Linked DNA regions of Homo sapiens: regions 2 and 3 are each linked to region 1. The links come from fine-mapping of genetic effects on gene expression. A gene starts in region 1. Each other region holds a variant in brackets. All regions are shown on one strand. Distances are from middle to middle. Region 1 holds the start of SHPK (sedoheptulokinase). Region 2 overlaps TRPV1 (transient receptor potential cation channel subfamily V member 1). Region 3 overlaps TRPV1 (transient receptor potential cation channel subfamily V member 1).

Evidence for each region. PIP is the estimated chance that this variant, and not a neighbour inherited with it, causes the effect. A credible set is the group of variants that fine-mapping cannot tell apart.
Region 2: its variant is fine-mapped to the expression of SHPK in whole blood (INTERVAL, PIP 0.96). The same link has a PIP of 0.9 or more in vagina.
Region 3: its variant is the best candidate, but not a certain one, in a credible set for the expression of SHPK in blood mononuclear cells (TOPMed, PIP 0.61).

Annotation. Positions count from the first base shown.
Region 1 is chr17:3,629,369-3,640,048 of GRCh38, reverse strand. SHPK (sedoheptulokinase) reads left to right here and starts at 3,799. Exons shown (of 7, transcript NM_013276.4): 1 at 3,799-3,997; 2 at 9,703-9,844. The coding sequence starts at 3,830. It overlaps CTNS (cystinosin, lysosomal cystine transporter), which reads right to left and starts at 3,289. Exons shown (of 12, transcript NM_004937.3): 1 at 3,218-3,289; 2 at 2,733-2,942. LOC105371493 (a long non-coding RNA gene) reads left to right here. Exons shown (of 6, transcript XR_007065579.1): 6 at 964-1,552. RefSeq lists silencers at 2,924-3,013, 4,024-4,083 and enhancers at 3,294-3,543, 5,382-6,247.
Region 2 is chr17:3,602,892-3,608,279 of GRCh38, reverse strand. The region is part of intron 2 of TRPV1 (transient receptor potential cation channel subfamily V member 1); the gene reads left to right. It overlaps SHPK (sedoheptulokinase), which reads left to right. Exons shown (of 7, transcript NM_013276.4): 7 at 1-40. Among named protein-coding and RNA genes, the nearest start is that of TRPV1, 3.8 kb to the left of the region's middle. The variant C/G (reference allele first, on the strand shown) is at 2,416.
Region 3 is chr17:3,591,285-3,601,851 of GRCh38, reverse strand. TRPV1 (transient receptor potential cation channel subfamily V member 1) reads left to right here. Exons shown (of 17, transcript NM_080704.4): 3 at 9,469-9,785; 4 at 10,499-10,567. The coding sequence starts at 9,502. Among named protein-coding and RNA genes, the nearest start is that of TRPV1, 13 kb to the left of the region's middle. RefSeq lists an enhancer at 7,042-7,542. The variant C/T (reference allele first, on the strand shown) is at 2,765.

The DNA of each region.
Region 1 (10,680 bases):
CGGCCTCAGAGGGACACCCTAGAGAGGACTTATCTTTCTTTGATATACAGGGGAAACGGGCTCCGAGCAGATAAATGGGTTGTGTAAAGTGCCCCCCTGAGGAAGTGAACAAAGACCAGAATTTTTCCCTCTTCAATTGCTTTTTGTAAAAACTTAGTTAGCAGAAAGAAAGAATGCAATTTTACTGGCTTGAGATTCTTTTTCTCCAAAAGTTGTTAAAACTGTGGTCAGATATTTGACATTGTGAACCTATAAACCTCAAGGAAATTAATTTCCTTTCCTGTCCTGGGATAAGAGTCTAAGGGCTGATGACACCAACTGACCCTTAAGACTTAAAAAAACATTTTTTTTTAATATACATATTTAAATTTTTTTTTTTTTGAGACAGAGTCTTGCTCTGTTGCCCAGGCTGGAGTGCAGTGGTGCGAACTCTGTTCACTGAAACCTCCACCCCCTGGGTTCAAGCAATTCTTGTGCCTCAGCCTCCTGAGTAGCTGGGATTACAGGTGCCCCCCACCATGCCCGGCTAACTTTTGTATTTTTAGTAGAGATGGGGTTTCACCATGTTGGCCAGCCTGGTCTCAAACTCCTGACCTCGAGTGATCCGCCCGCCTCAGCCTCCCAAAGTGCTGGGGTTACAGGTAGGAGCCACCGCGCCTGTCAAGACTTTATTTGACAAGTGTCACCATTCCAGGACTGGCTGGGGTCATTCACAAGGAGGACTCGGGGAGGGATGAGCCCCAGAGCAAGTCCTTGGTTTAGTGTGGAAGATGGGGAGCTGCATTCCTGTAAACCCAAGACACAGCAGGTGAACAGTGGGTCAAGAGCAGCCAGGCCGGCATGGATTTCTGTAGCTTGGTCTCCGTGCTGCCTCAGTACACAGTCTCACGGGCCTCCTGCAGACTGTGGGGAGCTCTGGGTAAGGTCTGTGTGGAGACATCCCTGTTCCCACTCTGATTTCAGTTTCCCCAAGGCCTCCAGCATCTCCGGACATCTCCCTTACACACTCCTCAAGAAGTCTCCCTGGCTGCTCCAGCTGTCTGACCTCTGTTGGCCCGTCTCCTCCAGGGTTCTCTCTTTGCCTGCTGCAGGTCTGCCTCATCTGAGACCCTTCTCACCGGCCGGGAATGACCCCGTACCTACTCTCTGGCCTCCTCTGGGGGCCTTGCTCTTGGCGCTGGATCCCTGTGCTCTGTCCCCTGACCTTGGAGGAATTGCCCTCCTGCGTGTATGGAATGACCACAGGCCTCCCTCTCACTCTTGCTGCCCTCCGCTCCTCACACCTGCCCTGTGGCCTCAAGTTCAGGATTCAGTTTGTTGCCCAGGACAGAGTCTGGTTTTTCTCCAGAAATTAGATGCAGAATCAGGCCTAACCAGCTTCTCAAACTCACAGACTTGGTCAGCAAACATTCCCAAGCCTCAAAGGCTGAGACCCCTGGAGGAACGATGCCAGCAGAGACAAAACGACATTGAGAGGTAAGTCAATTAAAATGTTAAAAAACATCAGATTAGGCTGAGCGCAGTGGCTCGTGTGTGTAATTCCAGCACTTTGGGAGGCCGAGGCAGTTGGATCACTTGAAGTCAGGAGTTCGAGACCAGCCTGGCCAACATGGTGAATCCCCGTCTCTACTAAAAATACAAAAATTAGCCAGGCGTGGTGGCATGTGCCTGTAGTCCCAGCTACTCAGGAGGCTGAGGCAGGAGAATCGCTTGAACCCGGGAGGTGGAGGTTGCAGTGAGCCGAGATTGCACCATTGCACTCCAGCCTGAGTGATAAGAGTGAAACTCCGTCTCAAATTAAAAAAAAAAAACAAAAAAAAAACCAGATTGATAATTACATACAACTAGTGGCTTGTGAAAGCTACAAGATAGAAATGAAGTATCTCCTGACAATGGGCTCTGTCTGGCGTGCCCTTCCTATGTAAGTTCTAACTATTGTCCAGGCCTCATTCAGATGTCACATGTTTCAAGAAGGCTCCTCACCCATTCAGTCCCTTCCCAGGAGCAACCTGGGGCTAGGGGTCTAGTGTGGCAGCTCCTGTCTGCCAGGTATGAGTTGGTCCTGTCCTCTGTTCTACGACCTGGAACTCCCTGGGTCTCCTGCTTTTGGAGAGGGTACACAAATAGTGGCAAGGGCTGTGTGCACTGGAGACAGGCTTGACCTATTTATTACTTATGCGACCTTGTGGTGCCAAACAAGGAGGTGGTAACTACCTCACAGGACTTAAATGAGGAGATGTAAAGCACGCATTGTCAAGTGGGACTAAAATTGGCTGGGGGTAGGCTGGGCGCGGTGGCTCACGCCTGTCATCCCAGCACTTTGGGAGGCCGAGGTGAGCGCATCACCTGAGGTCAGGAGTTCGAGACCAGCCTGGCCAACATGGTGAATCCCCATCTCTACTAAAAATACAAAAATTAGCTGGGCATGGTGGCTCAGGCCTGTAGTCCCAGCTACTCGGAAGGCTGAGGTAGGAGAATCGCTTGAACCCCGGAGGCGGAGGTTGCAGTGAGCCGAGATCGCGCCACTGCACTCCAGCCTGGGTGACAGAGGCTGCAGACTCCATCTCAAAAAAAAAAAAAAAATTGGCTTGGGGTGGTAGTGAAGAAATCTAGCTATTACAATGGTTTGTGGCCACAGAAACAAATACACAGCGTACTAGTGGTATTAAATTTTATGGGAAGGGGGTAGGTAGGAATAACGAGGTTGAGAAACAAGGATATAAAGTGGTTACCTCTGTTGCTTAGGGCGCCTAGCGAGCTCTCACAAAACACAGTAATCCTCAATGTTACTGGAAGAGGCAGAGCTCAGGAGTCCTCCCTTCGCCCAGTGTGAAAACCCGGAGGGGAGGATGGGGTCTCGTGCTGCTCAGTCCCCCGGAGCCCCGCACTCCGCACGTCAACCGGCGCTCTCGCAAAGGTTCTCTCAGCGTCTCCAAAGCAATCTGCAAATTCCCCAACCGAGACCCAGGCGGCAACTGAGCAGAAGGTAAGGGGCTGGGAACGGCACCCACCCCGGCAGCCCGCTGCCCCTGCCTCGGCTGACCACCGCTCGGGCCCTTCCACCCGGGGGTTGTCCCGTGTCGCGAGGCCAGCACTGGTGGCGGGGAAAGGAGCCCGCCGCGGCTGAGGGCGCTGGACCCCCGGCAGGCTGCCCCGCTGACCTGCTGTGCCTCAAGGGGTCCGCCTGGGAAACAGGGGAGGCCGCGTCCGCTCTCACCTGAGCGCCCCCAGGCTCGAGGAACCGCCCTCACGGGACGCATGAGCCTCGCCAGGTGCCGGTCAGGAATGCACCGCGTTCCCCTGCCCGGCTAGACTTTGGGAGAGGCGGGTCCGCTGTCACCTGACCTCCGCCACCTGACTCGTGGGGCCGGATCTCGGCGAGATGAGCTCTGGGAGTTGTAGTTTCCGCGCGTCTTAGACGGACAGAGCGCAGCTGGGTCGGGCCGGGGCGCAGAGATCGGGGCTCCGGCGTGAGGGAAGATGAGGTCCGCTGCCAGGGACACAGAGACTCTTGGAGCCGCCAGCGCCTCCCGGCTCCTTTCGTGAGCGAAGCTCAGACCGCCCTCCATTGGGCGGAAATCAGAGCCCGTGGGGCGGGGCCCCCTTTAGGTCCCGCCTTCCGCCGCCTCTCCGCCTATAGCCGGGGCCCGCCGAGAGGTTGCGTGGAAGCTCGCCTTCCCCGGCCAGTGGGAAGACGAGAAGCCTCCATGTTGGGTGTGGCTGAAAGATTGGCAGGCGACTCCCCGCCCCTGCCCCGCCCCCCTGGGCGAAGAGCGCGGACTTGTGGGGCCGCTGGCTGCAGACTGGAGCTGCGCGGGTCAGGGAGATAATGGCTGCGCGGCCGATCACCCTCGGCATTGACCTGGGCACCACATCTGTGAAGGCAGCTCTGCTGAGGGCCGCGCCCGACGACCCATCCGGGTTCGCAGTGCTGGCGAGCTGTGCCCGTGCTGCGCGGGCAGAGGCGGCGGTCGAGAGCGCGGTGGCCGGGCCCCAGGTGAGTTGGACCCCCGGGGCCGCGCCGCCTCCAGGAGCCTCCTGACCACCCTTTTCCACCCCAGGAGGCCTCCCTGACAGCCCTTCCCGCAATGAAGTCTCTATTCCAGCTTGTCCCCAGCTTCTCCAGGGGCCCGTCTGCCTGCAGCAGCTGTGCTCATGATCCCTTAGGTCTGGTCCCAGAATCCTTCCCACCTGCTGGGACCGATTCCCCCCCGCCCCCTCCCCGACTCTCTGGCTTCTTCTGGGGGCCTTGCGCTTGGCGCTGGATCCCTGTGCTCTCTGTCCCCTGACCTTGGAGGAACTGATCTCTTGTGTGTATGGAATGACCACAGGCCTCCCTTTCACTCTTGCTGCTCTCCGCTCCTCACACCTGCCCTGTGACCTCAAGTTCAGGATTCAGTTTGTTGCCCAGGGCAGAGTCTGGGTTTTCCTCCGGAAATCAGATGTCAAATCAGGCCTAACTGGCTCCTGGCTCATTCCACAGAAGCAGAATGCGGACCAAGAAACCTTTGGTCAGCCGGGCGCGGTGGCTCACGCCTGTAATCCCAGCGCTTTGGGAGGCCGAGGCGGGCGGATCACGAGGTCAGGAGATCGAGACCATCCTGGCTAACACGGTGAAACCCCGTCTGTACTAAAAATACAAAAAATTAGCGGGGCGTGGTGGCGGGCGCCTGTAGTCCCAGCTACTCGGGAGGCTGAGGCAGGAGAATGGCGCGAACCCGGGAGGCGGAGCTTGCAGTGAGTCGAGATCGCTCCGTTGCACTCCAGCCTGGGTGACAGAGCGAGACTCCTTCCCTTCCTTCCCTTCCTTCCTTCCTTCCTTCCTTCCTTCCTTCCTTCCTTCCTTCCTTCCTTCATTCTTTCCTTTCTTTCTCTTTCTTACCAAGTCTCGCTCTGTTGCCCAGGCTGGAGTACAGTGGCGTGATCTGGGCTCACTGCAACCTCCGCCAACTGGATTCAAGTGATTCTCCTGCTTCAGCCTCCCGAGTAGCTGGGACTACAGGTGTGAGCCACCGCGCCCGGCTACTTTTTGTATTTTTAGTAGAGACAGGGTTTCGCCATGTTCGCCAGACTGGTCTTGAACTCCTGACCTCAAGTGATCTGCCCACTTCAGCCTCCCAAAGTGCTAGGATTACAGTTGTGAGTCACTGCGCCTGGCCCAGCTTTGTTTTTCACAAGCTCTTGCCACATACATGGACACGGTTGTTTAGGGTTCAGAGCCCATTTGGCTCAGAAGCATTTCTGAGGATAGGGATTTCAGGAGCACTTTGTATCTACATAGAAGCTTTCAAGATTAGTTTGGTTGGGACATTAGGGCATATTAAAAGGATTCTTACTTAAAGGACTATGAATTGGAGGCAAAGTTGGCTCTGACCCTGGTGGGGTGAGCAGGAGAGCTGGCATTAGGGGAGAGTAGGCTCAGAAAGTGCCAGTTTCTCCTGAAATAGAGCACTTCTTTTTTTTTTTTTTTTTTTTTTGAGACAGGGTCTCGCTCTGTCACCCAGGCTGGAGTGCAGTGGTGCAATCTCTGCTCACTGAAACCTCTGCCTCCCGGGTTCAAGTGATTTTCGTGCCTCAGTTTCCCGAGTAGCTGGGATTACAGGTGTGCGCCACCATGCTTGGAGAATTTTTTTGTATTTTTGGTAGAGATGGGGTTTCACCATGTTGGCAAGGCTGGTCTCAAACTCCTGACCTCAACTGATCTGCCTGCCTCGGTTTCCCAAAGTGCTGGGATTACAGGTGTGAGCCACCGCACCCAGCATGGCCACTTTTTTTTTTTTTTTAATTGATCACTCTTGGGTGTTTCTCGCAGAGGGGGATTTGGCAGGGTCATAGGACAATAGTGGAGGGAAGGACAGCAGATAAACAAGTGAACAAAGGTCTCTGGTTTTCCTAGGCAGAGGACCCTGCGGCCTTCCGCAGTGTTTGTGTCCCTGGGTACTTGAGATTAGGGAGTGGTGATGACTCTTAACGGGCATGCTGCCTTCAAGCATCTGTTTAACAAAGCACATCTTGCACCGCCCTTAATCCATTTAACCCTGAGTGGACACAGCACATGTTTGAGAGAGCACAGGGTTGGGGGTAAGGTCACAGATCAACAGGATCCCAAGGCAGAAGAATTTTTCTTAGTACGGAACAAAATGAAAAGTCTCCCATGTCTACTTCTTTCTACACAGACACAGCAACCATCCGATTTCTCAATCTTTTCCCCACCTTTCCCCCTTTTCTATTCCACAAAACCGCCATTGTCATCATGGCCCATTCTCAATGAGCTGTTGGGTACACTACCCAGACGGGGTGGTGGCCGGGCAGAGGGGCTCCTCACTTCCCAGTAGGGGCGGCAGCACGGCCACTTCTTGAAAACTTTTCTGCCCTCCCTCCCCAGCTTTCAGCAGGCTGTTCTGTGCTTACAGGCTCACCCAGTGTGTCACACCTATTTAATGAAGTGCTTAGCGGAGGCCAGTCATTAACCCCCCCACACCACATATGAATCGTGCTCTGGGACAAACAGCACTGCTGTGAGTTAGTCTATATAGCAGGGTTTCTCAACCTTGGTGCTGCTGACATTTTGGGCTGCATAGTTTTTGTTGTGTGAGGGGTGTCCTGCATGTTGTAGAATGTTTAGCAACATCTCTGGCCCACTAGATGCCAGCCACGCTTGCCCCTCTTCCCCAGATGTGACAACCAAAAATGTCTCCATGTTGCCAAATGTTCCCTAGGTGACAAGACCACCCCGAGTAGGAACCAGTGATCTATAGTCATATCTGTGGCCGGGCGCGGTGGCTCTTGCCTGTAATCCCAGCACTTTGGGAGGCGGAGGTGGGTGGATCACTTGAGGTCAGGAGTTCGAGACCAGCCTGGCCAACATGGTGAAACCCTGTCTCTACTACAAAATAACAAAAATTAGCCGGGCGTGGTGATGCGTGCTTGTAATCCCAGCTACTTGGGAGGCTGAGGCAGGAGAATTGCTTGAACTCGGGAGGCAGAGGTTGCAGTGAGCCCAGATCATACCACTGCACTCCAGCCTGGGCAACAGAGTAAGACTCTGTCTCCAAAAAAAAAAAAAAAAAAAAAAAAGTAATATCTGCTGGCTGTGTTCTTTCCTCAAGTTCATACTTTTCACTCATAAGTATTAGCTATACCAGGGTCAAGCTTGGCAGCTGTGCAGACAATCAGTTTTTGGTATTTGCCCATTTAAAATACAAGGTTTTCGAGGGCAGTTCTGTGACCCTTTCACAGTTTATATTTATTTTTCCTCTCTGGGCATCAGTTTCCTCCGCTGTAAAAAGAGGCCTGAGGAGTAGGATTTAATGAGCTTCTAAGTACTGTGTGCAAGTCTAAAGCGCGAGGATTCGACGTGGATGTAGACCAACTGATATTCTGAGCCAAGGAGTGGGGGCAATGTCTATTCCTGTTACACTGGGGGTCTGTCCAAGAGCTACTCCCCAATCACACCCGCCCCTAAAACTGTTTCTAACTGCTGAACACTGCCTCCTTGTCTTTACCACATCCAGCCTGCTTACTTCTTCCCGTGTCTCCCCCCACACAACTCACGCACCCACTCACCCTGGGACCATTTGAAACAGCAGCTCTGTCCTGGGATGACACACCACCCCATGGCCATGTGGAGTCTTACTGTGTTGCTGAGGCTGGTCTCAGGCTGGTCTCAAAGTTCTGGGATCAAGTGATCTCCTGCTTCAACCTTCCCAGTGGCTGCGATTATAGGCGTGAGCCGCTGCGCCCAGCTGGGAGGACTCTTTAAACTAGCTCTGTCCAGTAGAAATATGACCTGCAGGCCAGGCGCGGTGGCTCACGCCTGTAATGCCAGCACTTTGGGAGGCCGAGGCGGGCGAATCACGAGGTCAAGAGATCGAGACCATCCTGGCCAACATGGTGAAACCCCGTCTCTACTAAAAATACAAAAATTAGCCGGGTGTGGTGGCGCGCACCTATAGTCCCAGGTACTTGGGAGGCTGAGGCAGGAGACTCGCATGAACCTGGGAGGCAGACGATGCAGTGAGCTGAGATCACACCACTGCACTCCAACCTGGTGACAGTGAGATTCCGTCTCAAAAAAAAAGAAATGTAACCTACAAATGGAGCCAGGCGTGGCCTTTTCAATTTTCTAGCAGCCCTATTAAAATAAACAAGTGAAATTAATTTTAATTGCATATTTTATTTAACCCAGTGTATCCAGCACATTATCAGTTTGATGTGTGATAATCAAGGCTGGGTGCGGTGGCTCACACCTGTAATCCCAGCACTTTGGGAGGCCGAGGTGGGTGAATCCCTGAGGCCAGGAGTTTGAGACCAGCCTGGCCAACGTGGCGAAACCCCGTCTCTACTAAAAATACAAAAATTAGCCCGGCGTGGTGGTGTGAGCCTGTAATCCCAGCTACTCCGGAGGCTAAGGCAGGAGAATCACTTGAACCTGGGAGGCAGAGGTTGCAGTGAGCCAAGATTATGCCACTGCACTCTAGCCTGAGCAATAGAGAGAGACTCTATCGCTAAAAAAAAAAAAAAAAAAAAAAAAAAAGCATTAAATTAGATAGTGTATATTTTTTGTCATACTAAATTGTAGTCCGGTGCATGTTTTACATTTACATGTCAATTCAGACTAGCCACAAGTGGCTAACGATTTCAGTATTGGACAGTGAGGGTCTAAACAAATGTCTATTCCCAGAACCCTTCTTCCTGCCCCCCACCCCCATGTCCCCACCCTGCTCTTCTTTCCTCCCTCTGGTGATCCTGCATAGCCACCTGGCTCCTCTGTGCCTCTTGTCTTCCACTTCCTCTTGGCTGTGGCCTCTCTTGCATGTAGAATCCTTGTTGAGCTCTGGGGCTGCTTCCTAGGAAAAGGCTGTGCTTCCCCTGTACTCCCTGCCCCATCCTACCCCTCCTCTCCTCCCTTCTTTCTCTTCTTTGTTCCTGCTTGTTAGGAGCCAAGAGCTGCCCCTGACCAAGGCCGCAGGCTGACAGGGGCAAGCGAGAGGTTTTCCGAGGAGGGGAAGACAGCACTCCCGGGAGGGAAGCAAGACGTCTGAGAACTCAGCCTTCAGATGCCTTTCTAAGACCTTAGCTTTGCTAGTTCCTCAAAGAGCTGACATTTATTGAGAGCTGAGCCACAATTCTCTTCCCCTTCTTCTCTTCTGAACTTTCTGTGGATTCCTCTAGTTGGTTTTTTTGAGATGGAGTCTCACTTTGTCACCCAGGCTGGAGTGCCGTGGCGTGATCTCGGCTCACCGCAACCTCCGCCTCCCAGATTCAACCGATTCTCCTGCCTCAGCCTCCTGAGTAGCTGGGATTACAGGTGCATGCCACCATACCCGGCTAATTTTTTGTATTTTTAGTAGAGACGGGGTTTCATCATGTTGTTTGGCTAGGCTGGTCTCGAACTCCTGACCTCAGGTGATCCACCCACCTTGGCCTCCCAAAGTGCTGGGATTATAGGCTTGAGCCACCAGTGCCTGGCCTTATTTCTTCTATTTATAGCACAGAGAATGCTGTTCTCAGCTGAGTCTGACCCCAGTGGAGGGCAGGCCCAGGCAGTTTGCTGCAACTCACCTGCAGCAGTGCCTCAACTGTGAAGTTAGGGAGTGGATGCTGCCCACTGCATTCCTCCTCCAGGACATCCCGGGAGGCCTGCGCCCCTCCCCCTGCCTGTGTGTCTGCCCCTGCCCATGTGTTCTCTTTTGCTTCCAGGGGCGGGAGCAGGATGTGAGTAGAATCCTCCAAGCCCTACACGAGTGCCTTGCTGCCCTTCCCCGACCCCAGCTCCGGAGCGTCGTGGGCATCGGGGTGTCGGGCCAGATGCATGGAGTCGTGTTTTGGAAAACAGGCCAAGGTATGCTGGGCTCGGGGATGCTCTCAGGCTGGTAGCAGTCACTTCCAGAACTAGAGCAGTGCTGTGCGGGGCTTTCTGTGAAGGGTCGGGTTATCCTGCAGTGGGAATAGGGTCTTGTTTCTTGGAGTGGACGAATACGTGCTGCCTCCTGCGTGGGTGAGCATTCTGTACCAATGTTAGGTGAACAAAGGAACTGCCCACTCCCACATCATCAGCACGTTATCCACGAACAGGCAGAGGGAAGAGAGTGTTTTCTCGGATTCTCCTGAAGGATTCAGCAGAGTGCATTTTCCATAGCTTTCTCTTTACCATGTCAGTATCTCAGAACATTAGTGCAGACAACCGAGAGACTGGCTATAGCTGCAGGAGATGCCAGGACATGGAGGGCATGCTTTTGAATTGGGGCACATTTGTCGTTGTTTACATATTTGTGATTTTGAAAATTCCAGGGCATATCTTTTTTTTTTTTTTTTTTTAAGGTGGAGTTTCACTCTTGTTACCCAGGCTGGAGTGCAGTGGCGCAAACTCAGCTCACTGCAACCTCTGCCTCCCGAGTTCAAGTGGTCTTCCTGCCTCAGCCTCCAGAGTAGCTGGGACTACAGGTGCCTGCCACCACGCCCAGCTAATTTTTGTATTTTTAGTAGAGACGGGGTTTCACCATGTTGGCCAGGCTGGTCTCGAACTCCTGACCTCAAATGATCCACCGGCAGCCTCCCAAAGTGCTGGGATTACAGGTGTGAGCCACCATGCCCGGCCGGCATATCCTTTTTATGGGTTCAGTTGCTAAGCATTTCTAGTTGGTTGTCTTATGAAGATCTGCCACAGTGCGGAGGTGG
Region 2 (5,388 bases), 29 kb after region 1:
TTCTATCTGTGAAATTCTAAAGAAAAAGAAATTCGTGCTAGTTTTTTTTGCCTTTTTTTTTTTTTTTTTGAGACATAGTCTCACTGTGTCACCCAGGCTGGAGTACAGTGGTGCAATCTTGGCTCACTGCAACCTCTGCCTCCCGGGTTCAAGCGATTCTCTTGCCTCACCCTTCTGAGTAGCTGAGATTACAGGCTCCTGCCACCACGCCTGGCTAATTTAGTTTTAGTAGAGATGGAGTTTCATCATGTTGGCCAGGCTGGTCTCGAACTCCTGACCTCAGGTGATCCACTTACCTTGGCCTCCCAAAGTACTAGGATTGCAGGCGGGAGCCACTGACCCCAGCCTCATGCCAGTTTTGCTGTCACACCTCAAACTGCAAAAGTATGGTCACAGTGTGTGATAACTTTTATTAGAGTGTATTGTTAAAACCGTTCTACTTTGGCTGGGTGTGGGGGCTCACACCTGTAATCCCAGCACTTTGGGAGGCCGAGGCGGGTGGATCACCTGACATCAGGAGTTTGAAACCAACCTGGCCAACGTGGTGAAAACTCGTCTCTACTAGAAATACAAAAGTTAGCTGGGCATGATGGCACGCGCCTGTAATCCCAGCTACTTAGGAGGCTGAGGCAGGAGAATCGCTTGAGCTCTGGAAGCAGAGGTTGCAGTGAGCTGAGATCGCACCACTGCACTCTAGCCTGGGTGACAGAGCGAGACTCTGCCTCAAAAAAAAAAAAAAAATTGTTCTACTTTATTGTTGTTGTTAATCTCTTACTGTGCCTAATTTGTAAATTAAATTATATTACAGATATGTATGTGTAGAAAAAACATGGCATATGCAGGATCCAATACTAGCCTTGGTTTCAGGCATCTATGCAGGGTCTTGGGACATATCTCCTGTGGATGACAGGGGGCTACTGTATTTTTTTTTTCTTTTAGGCAGAGTCTCCCTCTGTCGCCCAGGCTGGAGTGCAGTGGTGCGATCTCAGCCCACTGCAACCTCCACCTCCCGGGTTCAAGCAATTCTTGTACCTCAGCCTCCCGAGTAGCTGAGATTACAGGCATGTGCTACCACACCTGGCTAATTTTTGTATTTTTAGTAGAGATGGGGTTTCACCATGTTGGCCTGGTCTTGAACTCCTGACCTCAGGTGATCCACCTGCCTCAGCCTCCCAAAGTGCTGGGATTACAGGCGTTAGCCACCATGCCTGGCCTGCTACTGTAATTTTTCTTTCAGCCAAATGAGTTTAAGATGCTGTCATTGCAGCCCTGAGGAAGGCTGCATGAGAGAGAAGAGTAGGCTGAGTTTACCAGCGTCCTTTGTCTTTTGGGAGGAGCCAGGCCGTCTAATCTCAGAGTGGCAGCCTGTCTCGCCTGCCCAGCATGCAGTGGATGGGGTCTGCAAATGTAAGGTTAGGAACGGGATGGACATCCAGCAAGCTCAGGCAGCCCAGCCTTGTGCCTGGTGTGGCCCCGGAACTCTCTGTCCTCTTTCCAGACTATGCATTCACTCTGCCTCTGAGGACTGAGCCTTGGAGGGTCCCAGTTTGTCAATAAACAGGGCTGCTCCTGCTGCTTCCGTTGCCTGAGGCCTGGAGCCTCCGTCTAGGTGGGGGATGAGTGCAGCTGCCTGAAGTCACAACCACGTGCACAACCCACCCTCCTTCCCAGGAGGTGCCAGTAAGTGGTTTGAGGCCGGCATGCTTCTGAAGAAGTGGTGAGCGGGGCTCCTTTGCTGGCCGTCAGTATCCCGATGCTATGAGCCCACGGCAGGGCTGCACCTTCCCCCCGATCCGCTTCGGCCAGTGGGACGTGCACAGGGAATGCCTGTCACTCCTGGGCAGAGGTCTTTAGGAGCCAGTGAGCTACTTGCCACACACCCTTCCCTTTGCCACAAGTGACTGGCAGTGCCCCAGAGAGTGGTAGCTCTGTCAGCCTGGGTCCCTGAGTGAGGACAGTGTGGTGTAGAGTTCTCACCAACCAGCGAGGGACGTGCAGTGGGACAGAGAAGTAAGCGCCCTTTGGTGCAGTGCCTCACACCTGTAAACCCAGCACTTCGGGAGGCCGAGGAGGGCGGATCACTTGAGGTCAGGAGTTCCGAGACCGGCCTGGCCAACATGGTGAAACCCCGTCTCTACTAAAAATACAAAAAAATTAGCCGGGCATGGTGGTCGGCACCTGTAATCTCAGCTACTTGGGAGGCTGAGGCAGGAGAATCGCTTGAGCCTGGAAGGCGGAGGTTGCAGTGAGCTGAGATCATGCCACTGTACTCCAGTCTGGGAGACAGAGCGAGATTCTGTCTTTAAAATAAATAAATAAATAAATAAATAATAAACCTTTGATGTTTGAAGCCACTGAGATTTGGGGGTTGTCACCACAGCAGAGCAGCCTCAGTAGCCTGCACCTGGGACGTCT[C/G]CCATGCACCCAGCACAGACCCAGGCAGCCACATTTTCTGAGCGCCCAGTAGTAGCTGGGTGTTCTCTCAGAGACTGCCCCCCGTTGAATTTCCATCACGAGGCAATGGAAAAATACCAACAGTTGGTTACATAAACAGACCCTAGGAAAAGAAAAAGACACAGACAATGACAGCACCTCTATGCCCAGAGGGAGGAGAAATTCATTCTTTACACAAGTCACATTGAGCTAAACCTCCAAGGGTTTCCATCCATGGTTACTAACGACAGTTAACATTTCTTTTTGAGTACCTGCTGTGTACTGGGATCTGATCTAAACTCTACTTGTTTGAATTCATTGAATCTTTTTTTTTTTTTAAATGGAGTCTCACTCTGTTACCCAGGCTGGAGTGCAGTGGTGCGATCTCAGCTTACTACAACCTCAGCCTCCCGGGTTCCAGCAATTCTCATGCCTCAGCCTCGCGAGTAGCTGGGATTACAGGTGTACACCACCTCACCTGGCTAATTTTTTGTACTTTTAGTAGAGACGGGGTTTTGCCATGTTGCCTAGGCTGGTCTTGAACTTCTGGCCTCAAGTGATCCACCCACCTCGGCCTCGGAAAGTGCTGGGATTATAGGCATGAGGCACCATGCCAGGCCTCATTTAATCTAGAAGGTGGGTAGTGTTATCCCCATTTCACACATGGAGAGATAGATAAACAAAAAAGTTAAGTAACTTACCTGAGATCACAGTGCTAGGATTCAAACCCCAGAGCGAACCCACTCTCTTTAGCAACTAGGCAGTGGGGTCAGGCTAGGTAAATGTGTTTACATTAAAGTGATCGTCATGTCCAGAGTGTGACAAATTGGTGTAACTTGGTCATAGTGTGAATGGAAGGATGTTTATAGGAGTTGTGGCTGGACGTGTTGGGCAGACTGTGAAGGGTCTTGCATGCCCGCCTGAGGGGATTGGACTGTCTCCTGTAGACAGTGGGGTTTGGAGGACTGGGGCCTTGGGAGTGTAGCTGACAGTGTGGACGCTGGATTGGAGGAAGGGTGTTCTGGGAGACAGGAGGCTGTAAAACAGCCTGGAGAGATGGTGGGCCAGACCCAGTTCAGGGCAGGGTAGGGGACTCCAGCCCACCAGCCGCTGCTTTTCCTCCCGCCACACACTGCCTGCCTCTGGGCCTTGACCCCGTCCACATCATGTGTATGTGGCTTTCATGTTCTCTACTTTTCTCTTCTTCTTCTTTTTTTCTTTTTCTTTTTCTTTTTTTTTTTTTGAGACTTTTTGAGAGTCTTCCTCTGTTGCCCAGGCTAGAGTGCAGTGGTGCGATCTTGGCTCACTGCAACCTCCGCCTCCTGGGTTTAAGCAGTTCTCCTGCCTCAGCCTCCTGAGTAGCTGGGATTACAGGTGCCTGCCACCACACCCAGCTAATTTTTGTATTTTTAATAGAGACGGGGTTTCACCATGTTGGCCAGGCTGGTCTCAAACTCCTGACCTCAGGTGATCCGCCCGCCTCAGCCTCCCAAAGTGCTGGGATTACAGGCATGAGCCACCACGCCTGGCCTATTTTTCTCTTCTTCTGAAGTGGACTGAAAGCTCTTTGAGAGCAGGTGCCTAGGTGTCCTCAGCCCTGTCCTCCTGCACCTTAGCTCATGCCAAGGCCCATGTTTGGAATGTCCTCCTTGTGGGGCAGAATCCTTCTCCTTGTCCAAGGCCCAGCCCAAATGGCATCTGCCCTCTGCAAAGGGCCTCCCTGGTGACACATACGCCATCTGATTACAACTGCAGGGGAGGCCAAGACCCGGCTCAACATTTGTTGTTGGCATGGTCTGTTGGCCCCAGAGCCCCTGGCCTGTGCCTGTTACAGGGTGCCCTGCCCTGCCTAGTGTCAAGAGAGAGCCTGTGCACATCTTCCTTTCCTGTCCATCGTGGGCTTCTTGAGCGCAGAGACCACCCTGTTGACCCTACTGCTCTGCTAGGGGATTTGTATAGCACATGGTGGGCCCTCAGGAGAGAGGGTCTCACCTGGCCTCTCCCCTCAGCCACAGGTAGATGGACAGGCCAAGTCTTTGAAAGTGGGAGAGTCCTGATACAGAGATGCTCACTTGCGTGACTCATCAAACATTAAGCAAACCTTGTTTTTTTCATTAAAAAACAATTAGTCATAACTTCGAGCTAATGGCCGGATACAGCTCAGCAGTCAGCAGATGTGGTCCTCAGGCTGAAATAATGAAGATGAGAGCAGTCATCTCTCATGCCTGCCTAGAGCTTTACCAGGCTCAGAGCCCATTCACACCCACTATCCTGACTAATCCCAGAAAAGCCTCGTAAAGCAGGTAGGGCAGGTGTTCTTGGCTGTAATTTTGTGGAGGAAGAAGTAGACCCAGAGGTTCAGCTACCAGCCGGAGTCCATACAGCCGGCATCTAGCACACGCGGGCCTCTTCCATCCAAGGTCCAGGTTCTACCCACCTGCTGACCCTCCATTGGCCCTCGTCCCTCTTGTTCCCAGTCCCTGCCCTGGAACACAGCTCTGCAGAGCGGGGCTCCAGCGTTCTGTGCTGACTGGGTGTCTGACCCCTCCCCAGCTCAGACTTCAAGCTCTAGCCACTTCTGGAGGGTGCTGACCGGCTCGCAGACCGCTGCCCTCCACGGAAGCTGGTCTTTTAGACTCTTGGGCACCCGGTGACAGGAACACAGAGACGAAATGCAGGAAGGAGGGTATTTTTCTTTTTTTTTTTAATTTTAATTTTAATTTTTTGAGATGGAGTTTTGCTCTTGTTGCCCAGGCTGGAGTGCAATGGCGTGATCTCAGCTCATGCAACCTCCACCTCCTGGGTTCAAGTGATTCTCCTGCCTCAGCCTCCCGAGTAGCTGGGATTACAGGCATGCACCACCACGCCTGGCTAATTTTGTATTTTTAGTAGAGACGGGGTTTCTCCATGTTGGCCAGGCTGGTCTCGAACTCCCGACCTCAGGCGATCCACCCG
Region 3 (10,567 bases), 38 kb after region 1:
GAGACTGAGGTGGGGGATCACGTGAACTCAGGAGTTTGAGACCAGTCTGGCAAGATGGCGAGACTCTGTTGCTACCAAAAAAAAAAAAAAATCCGAGCGTGGTGGTGCACACCTGTAGTCCCAGTTACTTGGGAGGGTGAGGCAGGAGGATCCTTTGAGTCCAGGAGGTGGAGGCTGCAGTGAGCTATGATTGTGAGTCCCTTGCATTGGGTGACAATGCAAGATACCACCTCTTTAAAAAAAAAAGGTGAGAAATGAGCTCTTTATGCTGGGGCCTTTGGGAGAAGGTGGGATTTGAGCATCCCTAGGGCTCACCTCGCACTTGAAGATGGGTTAAGTGGGGTACTGGGATGGAGGAGGGTGGGGGAAAGGGTGGAGTCAGCACGTTTAGTGTGGCTGGGAAGGGGTGTGCCCAGGTGACAGAAGGTGGGTTTCGGTGGGAGAGGAGACTGGGTCTGTGGGCTCAGGGTGCGGGGGTGGGGCGTTGCTCAGCAGTGGGGACCCCTGAGAGGCAAGGGGGCCTGATCAGGATGAGCTTCCAGGACTGTTGATCTGGAGGTGAGGGGTTGTGGGAGGTTGGACCAGGGAAAGGAGGCACTTCTGGTCATTCAGGTGAGAAGAAGGGGCTCCCAGGTAGAGGAGGGATGGACGGAAGCCACAGAAACAGCCCAGGGAGGGCCGAGAAGGAGAGGCTGGAGGTCACAAAGGGCACCGGGTTTGGTGGCCAGAAGGAAGTTGATGCCTTTCCAGGCAGGGACTGCTGCAGGGAGCGGGAGGGGAGTGAATGTGGAGGGAACAGGAGCCCATTGTGGGTTATGCTGGGGGGAGGGGGCTTGTGGGCTTCACCTGCAGATTCAGGGAGGCAGGGATGGAGCTCAGGGAAGAGGGCTGGGTGGACTCTGGATGAAGCAGCCGCTGACTTGGACACATCAGAGAGGTCCTTGGGAGGGGCCAGGCGAAGGTCTCCAAGGACAGTGGTGGAGCTGGAGAAGATAAGGCTGCGGACGGGGTCCTTGGACCCCCAGGTGTGGGGAACGGCAAGAAGAGGAGAGCAGCCAGGGAGTCCCGGCAGGAGTGGCCAGGGCAGGAGGAGGGCCGGGACTTCCCCTGCAGGCCTCTGAGCAGGCACTGTGCCCTGTAGACTCCGGTGATACTGTTAGCACCAAGGGCTCTGTTAACAAAGAGGACAGGACACATTTAGTGATGTGTGCTGTGTTCACTGGAAATGGTGCTGTCTTTTGTTTTGTTTCGTTTTGTTTTTTTTAAATGGAGTCTCGCTCTGTAGCCCGGGCTGGAGTACAGTGGTGTGATCTCAGCTCACTGCAACCTCTGCCTCCCAGGTTCAAGTGATTCTCGTGCCTCAGCCTCCAGAGTAGCTGGGACTACAGGCGTGCACCACCACGCCCAGCTAATTTTTTGTATTTTTAGTAGAGACAAGGTTCCACTATGTTGGCTAGGCTGGTCTTGAACTCCTGACCTCAGACAGTCCGCCCACTTCTGCCTCCCAAAGTGCTAGGATTACAGGCTTGAGCCACCGTGCCCGGCTCCGTGCTGTCTTTATTGGAGGCAGAAATCACTTTGGAGGCTAAGGCAATGGTTCTGGAGAAGAAGCATGACCATCCCCTTTCCCAGCCATTGCTCTATCCCACATTGTTAGAAGGAAATGATCCCAGAGGACTAGAAAGTTGAGAGGTCACCACTGCTGAGTCTTTTATATATGACAGATCCCACTTCTGGGTCTATATGTGCCCAAAAGAATGGAAAGCAGGGACAGGACCAGATATTTGCACGCCTATGTTCATAGCAGCACTAGTCACTATGGCCAAAGGTGGAAGCAAGCCAAGTGTTCATCAGCTGGTGAATGGATGAGCAAAATGTGGTCCATCCATCCCACGCCCCAGTGGAATATTACTCAGCCTTAAAAAGGAAGGAGGGCTGGGTGTGATGGCTCATGCCTGTAATCCCAACACTTTGGGAGGCTGAGGCAGGTGAATCACAAGGTCAGGAGATCGAGACCCGCCTGGCCAACATGGTGAAACCCCATTTCTACTAAAAATTAGTTGGGTGTGGTGGCATGCACCCGTAATCCCAACTACTCGGGAGGCTGAGGCAGAAGAATTGATTGAACCAGGGAGGTGGAGGTTGCAGTGAGCTGAGATCACGCCATTGCACTGTAGCCTGGGGGACAGAGTGAGACTTCATCTCGAAAAAAAAAAAAAGAAAAGAAAAAAAGGAAATTCTCTTACAGGCTACTACATGGATGAACCTTGAGGAAATTATGCTAAGTGAAAGAAGCCAGTCACAAAAAGCAAAGAGACAAATACTGTATGATTCCTGACCAGAGGACTCCTAGAATAGTTAAATTCATAAAGACAGGAAGTTGAATGGTGGTCGTTAGGGGGTTGGGGTCGGGAAGGGGAGTTAGTGTTTAATGGGTGCAGGGTTTCAGTTTGGGATGATGAAAAAGTTCTGTGCATGGATGATGCTGATGGTTGTACAACAGTGTGAATGCACTGAGTGCCACTGAACTGTACTGTTAAACATGGTTAATACGGTAAATTTTGTTATATATATTTTGCCACAACTTATTATAATATATAAATATATATTTTGAGACAGAGTTTCGCTCTTGTTGCCGAGGCTGGAGTGCAATGGTGTGATCTTGGTTCACTGCAACCTCCACCTCCCGGGTTCAAGTGATTCTCCTGCCTCAGTCTCCCGAATAGCTGGGACTACAGGTGCCCACAACCACGCCCAGCTAATT[C/T]TGTATTTTTAGTAGAGATGGGGTTTCACCATGTTGGTCAGGCCTGGTCTCAAACTCCTGACCTCAGGTGATCCACCTGCCTCGGCCTCCCAAAGTGCTGGGGTTACAGGCATGAGCCACCGCGCCCGGCCTTTTGCCACAATTTATAAACAAGAATGAATTCTAACGTTCATATTAATTGAAGCTAACATGACACACATAGCATAAACAGGTGTCTAAGCGGCCAGGCGCGGTGGCTCACGCCTATGATCCCAGCACTTTGGGAGGCCGAGGCAGGTGGATCACTTGAGGTCAGGAGTTTGAGACCAGGCCTGACCAACATGGTGAAACCCAGCCTCTACTGAAAACACAAAAATTAGCCAGGCGTGGTGGCACGTGCCTGTAATCCCAGCTACTTGGGAGGCTAAGGCCGGAGAATTGCTTGAACCTGGGAGGCAGAGGTTGCAGTGAGCCGAGATTGCGCCATTGCATTCCAGCCTGGGAGACAGAGCGAGACACCATCTAAAAAAAAAAAAAAAAAAAAAGTGACTAAGCGAGGGGTATGGTGGGGTGTGGCGTGGTGGGATGGGCCTGGCTTTTATGCCTAGACCAACGTGCGGCCTGGGCAATTATCTAATTATCGGTTGTCTAATTGCCCAGCGTCACACATTTCTCACCTGTAAAATGGGTATGACAGTCTCTGCCCTCCCACTGCCCGGGGTTGCTGTACGGCCTGCGAGAGCGGGTTTGGGAAAGCTCTTTGTCAACTGCTGTGCGGAATTGATGGGGTGGCCACACTTCAATGCCTTGACTCAGGGGTCAGAGCTTTCAAGCGACCCCAGGCAGGGTTACGAGGGCCTCCCTGGCAGTGGCTGCTTATTCCAGGCTGGACCTGCCCTACGGCTTGTTGGCGTCCCGCAGGCAGCTGCTAGGATGGTTTTTGCAGGGCATTTGGGCCGCAGCCTGGATGCATACCTAGACCTCACTGTTTTTCTCAGCCAGGGTCTGGGAGAGAATGAAACCTATTGTTCTAGTTATCTGCTGTATGTGACTCTCTCCTGTGCGTTTCTCTCTTGTGGGTCTTCTCTCCTGTGCATTTAGGGTGGTATGAAGTGAAGAGAGAAAATAGACACTTGTGGCCGGGCGCAGTGGCTCACGCCTGGAATCCCAGCACTTTGGGAGGCCGAGGCAGGTGGATGACGAGGTCAGGAGTTCAAGACCGGCCTGGCCAACATGGCGAAACCCTGACTCTACTAAAAATACAACAATTAGCTGGGCGCAATGGCAGGTGCCTGCAATTGCAGCTATTCGGGAGGCTGAGGCAGGAGAATCGCTTAAACCTGGGAGGTGGAGGTTGCAGTGAGCTGAGATCGCGCCATTGCACTCCAGCCTGGACGACAGAGTAAGACTCTGTCTCAAAAAAAAAAAAAAAAAAAGGAAATGACACTGATAGTTATCTGTGTTTTGTGGTTCCCTGAGGAACCCCCAGTTGAGAAGAAAGGCTGGGACCTGGCTGACCCAGAAGACCCCCTCGACGCCAACCCCTACTCCAGGTTTGGGGACCCAGGAACGAGAGGCCTAAGAGAGTTAGGGACTAGTTCAAGGTTGCTCGGACTCTCAAAACAAGTCCCTAATGCCAGGCCAGTACTGTGTGGCGGGCAGCACGACCCTCCATTCCCTCTTTATTTTGAAAACGGAACAGTTACAGGACGCTAGTTTTGACGTCGCTGGTTGTGAATGTCATTTGTGGAGCCGTTTCCCAGACCTCCGGGGGCAGGAGCCACAGGTTTGAGAGGCCGAGCAGCGCCCTCCTTTCCTGAGAGCTGAGGTTGCAGCTCTGGCTGGCTCTGGTAAGTGCTCTGCAGCCCTGGCATGGCTGGAGGAGGGGCAGCAGCTAAGTGGTTTCTGAAAAAGGGCAAAAATGATGGGAAAAGCTTTGGGATCCTCTGGGAATCAGAGCCGCAGCAAAGGCAGCTGCTTGCATCGCTGGAAGCGTTTTTTCCTTGAGTGCCGAAGGGCGTCCACAGCGACTCCTGCTAGTGCAGGGCAGCTGCTGCCAGGGCCGGGCCCGGGACCCCACGGAGGCGGGGAGACCACTCTTCTCCCACACGAGCCCAGCTCTCCCTTCGAGTAGCAACCGCCTTCAAGCTCACAAGCACCCGTGGGCCTGGGGTGTGCCTGCGTCTAGCTGGTGAGTCCCTTTCTTTGTCTGATGGCCAATGCAGACATTAGCTTTTAAGATGGCATAGTGAGTGGCCAAAAGCCGGGCCCTGTCACTTCCCAGCTGTGCGACTGTGGGCAGGTCCACTCACCTCTCTGTGCCCCAGTTACCTTATCTGAAAACGGGGGGTAGTAAGAGTGGCTGCCTCAAAGGTGGTCGTGAGGCTGAAGCGAACTTGTGGTGCCCTCAGCCTGGCTCCTTGGAAGCACCTGGGAGGTGAGAGTGGAGGTTGTTGTTACTGGGGTTTGTTCTTGTTGCTCCTGCATCAGCCGTCCTCGGGGGAGGAGGCTGCAGCTGCTGCTGAGATTGCTGGTGTGTGGCCGGAGGTTTTCAGCGTGTCGCCCTCTCTGTGGAGTGGACGAGCGCAGGGCTGGGAAGCAGGCACACTGGGTCCTTGTGCTGCTGTCCTATCTCTTTGTTCTTCACCCCTGGGTTGGGAAGCCCGCAGCCTACTGCCTCCCTTTGACAGAAGGGACTACTGAGAATAATCTGGCTGGGTCCTGGGCCAGCGTTCTCCCAGCTTCCAGAAAGTCCCCAGTGGCGAGCGGGAGGTGCTCCCAAGAACTTGGATGGATGGATGGATGGATGGATGCTTTGGGCAGAGAGAGGAGCAGGGGAGCCACACCCCATGTTGTCTCACTTGCATTGGGGAGAGAAGGGATCCTTCCCCCAGAGGGTAGGCAGTATCTGTTCTGGCTTTGGAGTTGAGAAAGACTCAGATCATACCACGTCTCTGTGGGCAGAATCGATTCTTTTAGGATTGTCCTTTAGTCCAGATTGATGAGTTTGTGAGTCTTGTGTAAACCAGAATCACCATCTCCATCACACAGCCAACACTCGTTTGCCTAAATCACGGTAGAAGTTCCCCTGATCACTGTAGAATGTTTTGCGGTGACAGGTGCATCACCACGGGCTTAGGTGCAGGGTACACTCCAGGCCTGGCAGTGGAGGGCTGTCCTGACCCTGTTCCCCGGCCCAGCCCAGGGCACATGACCCCTCAGTTCCTGTCCCACCCCGTTCCCTGGAAGAAGCTTGGTTTCCAGTAGGGAATCAGGTGCAGAGTGTGCAGTATAGATTCAGCGTTTGTCGACTGACTGAATGATAGCACAATCCCGGCTGCTTCCTGTTGGCTGGGTTTGGTTGGACTGGGACCCGTCAGAGGAAAAGGCAACGCCGCTGACAAAGAACATTGCCGAAAGGTTCATGGGAGGCTCCGGCTAACAGGTGCTCTCTTGCTGGGCTGCCTAACGAGCAGCCCCTATTCTTATTCTTAGCTTATTCTTGGAGACCATAGACATCCCTGGGACAGCCAGGCATGGGTATGACCTGGGTCTTATTCACACTGCATTTTGGGGTTCCTGAGCTGCTTGTTTGAGCGAGAGGTGCTTCAGGTTCAGGTCTTATGCCTAGCCCCTTGGGTGAGAGGGCCTATTCTGATTGGCCCCCAGGCCCTGCTGTGGAGTCTGGGTCTGAGTTGAACTGCTGAGAAAGAGCCCCAGACCTCCAGCATCGTGGTGGAGCACTGGAGATGCTCTGGAGCCAGCCTGCCTGGGGTCAAGTCCGGGTTCCATCTCTGACTGTGTGACCTCGGGGACGTGCCATAACTGCTCTGTGCCTCGGTCTCCTCATCGGTGAAGTATTTCCCTCTTAGGGATGTTGTGGGAATGAAGTGGGTGAAGGAATGCGAGTCCTGAGAACCGTGTCTGCTTTGTGCACGTGCTCAGACGCATCAACGATTCTGCTTCTCATTCGCTTCTGGTGCCTTTTAAGTGCTGCCAGGGCTGTCCGCACTGTGAACGGTCCTTGACGGGGTGTTATCTTCAGAAAGGGAAGACTAGCACCCGGCCCCCCAGGCTTCCAAAGCATCATCCATGCAACCATGTTGGCTTTCAATTCCTTGGAGTTAAGGCTGACGGCCATCTGGTTCTAACCCGGCCTCCTGTCTTCCTGTCCCACTGACTTCCCGTTCTTCAGCTGCTCTAGGCTTCCCTGTCTGTCTCCAGACCCTAGCCCACCTCTGTTCCCTTCCCAGGCTCAGCTCATCCATCACCAACTGCCATGGACCCCTCTTCAGCACCCTGCCCCCTCCTGCAGTCCCTCCGCCCAGCCAGTACCTGGTTTCTGTCTCAGCGGGGAGCTGACTCCTCTCTGTGCCCCCAGCGCAGGGCTGGACTCTGAGGAGGAGGACTCAGTAGATAGGTATTGAGTGATGAGATGAGGGAATCGGCTTTCTGTGGCCGGGAACACTCCTGCTGCAGGGGGTCCACCTGATGGGTGAGTCAGAGAAAGACTCAGGCCTGTTGAAAGTGGATCAACAGGCAGGCAGGGAGATGGCCAGTAGCCAGCCGTCCGTCCTGTTCACAGCCTGCGGAGTGGTGAGGCTGCCTCTGTGTTTTCATGGATCTGAGATTCAGAACGTAGCTGGTTTACAGCCATGGCCCAGTTGTGTGCTCTGGAGTTTCACTGCCTGAATTTTAACTTGAAAATGTAGGACTTGGGAGTCTCTCTGAGCCATTCTGGCTTGGGAGATTGCCTGATTATATATTTCAAAAAAAAAAAAAAAGAAAATGCAGGACTTGAGAAGCCTCTCATTTCTTCTGCGGCTGTTTTCCGGAATGTAGCCACTGCTGGAACAGTAATCTCCCTAACTTCCTATGGAAATGGCAATTAGAAGGGTCTGATTGCTCTTATTTCCCCATGTGTGCAGCTGCTGCTGCTGCTGCTGCTGCTGCTTCTTTTTTTTTTTTTTTTTTTTTTTTTGAGACAGAGTTTCACTCTGTTGCCCAGGCTGGAGTGCAGTGGCACAGTCTCAGCTCACTGTAACCTCTACATCCTGGGTTCAAGCGATTCTCCTGCCTCAGCCTCCCGAGTAGCTGGGATTACAGGCGCCCGACACCACGCCCGGCTAATTTTTGTATTTTTTTTAGTAGAGATGGGATTTCACCATGTTGGCCAGGCTGGTCTCGAACTCCTGACCTCAGGTGATCCACCTGCCTTGGCCTCCCAAAGTGCTGGGATTACAGGCGTGAGCCACGCGCCCAGGCCAGTACAGCTTCTTCATAAGGAGATGGACCAGGAAAGGTCCCTGCCCAGGAGGAGGTCACAGGGTGCGGGAGAGATAAATCAGTGACAGATAGCAATTGCTGGACCACATGGTAGGCTGTGTGGGACAGGCGGTCAGTGGGCTGGGCCACTGTGTGGAGGACAGCGGGGAGCATGAGCAGGGCAGGGATCTGGGGGCTTCATGGAGGAGGCGGCATCAGTGCTGGATCCTGAGGGGAAGTAGCATCTGAGTGGTGATAGGACTTGTGCAAGGGTAGACAGAGGAAAAAGCCCTTAGGTGGAGACCCGATGGGAATAGAGGCTATGGGAGGGATGTATGGGCCACCCCTGGGTGCCAGGGAGTGGGGATGCCCAGCCAGAGGGAGGGGAAGCATGGGGATGGGGCAGGATGGGAGTGGAAAATAGCATCAGCTCATGTGTCCAACTACACATGCTGCTGCCAGCGGCCAGCTGATCTCTAGGTGTTTAGGCCTAGAAGACCAACCAGCTCCAAATCACTTAAAGCCTAAACGTTCCCTGTCTCTACTAAAAATACAAACATTAGCCACGCATGGTGGCGGGCGCCTGTAATCCCAGCTACTTGGGAGGCTGAGGGAGGAGAATCGCTTGAACCTGGGAGGTGGAGGTTGCAGTGAGCAGAGATTGCCCCATTGCACTCTAGTCTGGGCGACAGAGTGAGACACACAGACACACACACACACACACACACACACACACACACACACACACACACACACACACACGCCTAAACATTCAAGGCCAGGATGCTTGACAGATGTTGATTCATAAAAATGACAAAAAGCACAAAATCCAAAATCTCGTATAAGCTCAGTGGCTGTGGCAGCGAGGTTGAAGAGCAAAGGCAGGCCGGGCACCTGGCTGATGATGTGTGGACCCGTTGCACAGCAGGGCCCCGCAGTGCGGTGTGGGTGTGGGTGGGCCAGTCTCTGCCGCTCACCCTATTCCAGGGACACAGTCTGCTTGGCTCTTCTGGACTGAGCCATCCTCATCACCGAGATCCTCCCTGAATTCAGCCCACGACAGCCACCCCGGCCGTTTTCCTTGTTCTGTGTGGGGAGGGAGGCAGCGCGGTGGTTATCAACCTCACCCTGCAGAGGAGGCACCTGAGGCCCAGAGACGAGGAGGGATGGGTCTAACCCAGAACCACAGATGGCTCTGAGCCGGGGGCCTGTCCACCCTCCCAGGCCGACGTCAGTGGCCGCAGGACTGCCTGGGCCCTGCTAGGCCTGCTCACCTCTGAGGCCTCTGGGGTGAGAGGTTCAGTCCTGGAAACACTTCAGTTCTAGGGGGCTGGGGGCAGCAGCAAGTTGGAGTTTTGGGGTACCCTGCTTCACAGGGCCCTTGGCAAGGAGGGCAGGTGGGGTCTAAGGACAAGCAGTCCTTACTTTGGGAGTCAACCCCGGCGTGGTGGCTGCTGCAGGTTGCACACTGGGCCACAGAGGATCCAGCAAGGATGAAGAAATGGAGCAGCACAGACTTGGGGGCAGCTGCGGACCCACTCCAAAAGGACACCTGCCCAGACCCCCTGGATGGAGACCCTAACTCCAGGCCACCTCCAGCCAAGCCCCAGCTCTCCACGGCCAAGAGCCGCACCCGGCTCTTTGGGAAGGGTGACTCGGAGGAGGCTTTCCCGGTGGATTGCCCTCACGAGGAAGGTGAGCTGGACTCCTGCCCGACCATCACAGTCAGCCCTGTTATCACCATCCAGAGGCCAGGAGACGGCCCCACCGGTGCCAGGTAAGTCCGCGTCTGGAGCCCCCCTCCCTGCTGGGAGCCCAGCTGGCCATGGAGATGCCACAGGGTGGTCTGGCTTCTGGGCTAAATGTCACAAAGCCAGGGGGCTGGAGAGCCTTAGGGGTGGTCTGGTCCAGCGTCCTTCCTCATGTGACCTCGTGGGATGTGCAGTCACGGGGGCTGGTGTCTGTGCTGGGTCTAGGTGTCCACGCCCGCAATGCCTACCAGCCACAGACACTTGGACTTGAAGTCTAAAAGCTCAAGGGCAGGAGGCTTTTGGAGAGCACAGCACAGCTCCAGTGAGCTGCAAGGCAGGGCAGGGAGGGCCACAGGCTGGCTGACTTCTGGGGAGTGTGAGGCCACCTTTTCCCTTAGAGGGGCTGTCTACACCCCTGCCTCCACCTCCCTCCGTCCCCACCAGGCTCCTGCCTCCCGAGCTCCCGAGCAGGCAGAGAAGCCAGTGGTCTGGGAGTAGGAGGGTGACTTTCTAGATGGTGTCTATAGACAGGGTGGGGACAGAATGGGGACACATGCCCTCCACTGTCCCTGTTACATTGCTTTTCTGGACAGTCACCTAGACTGAGGGGCAGCTTTTATATCATTTTTCCCCTTTTTGGTTTGCCTTGGGATTTAGTCGTGTTCCCTTGACAAGCTCCGAAGGCCTCAGGGCCGAGGGGAGGCCAGGGTATGAGACGAGCGTGTTTTCTGGCCCACAGGCTGCTGTCCCAGGACTCTGTCGCCGCCAGCACCGAGAAGACCCTCAGGCTCTATGATCGCAGGAGTAT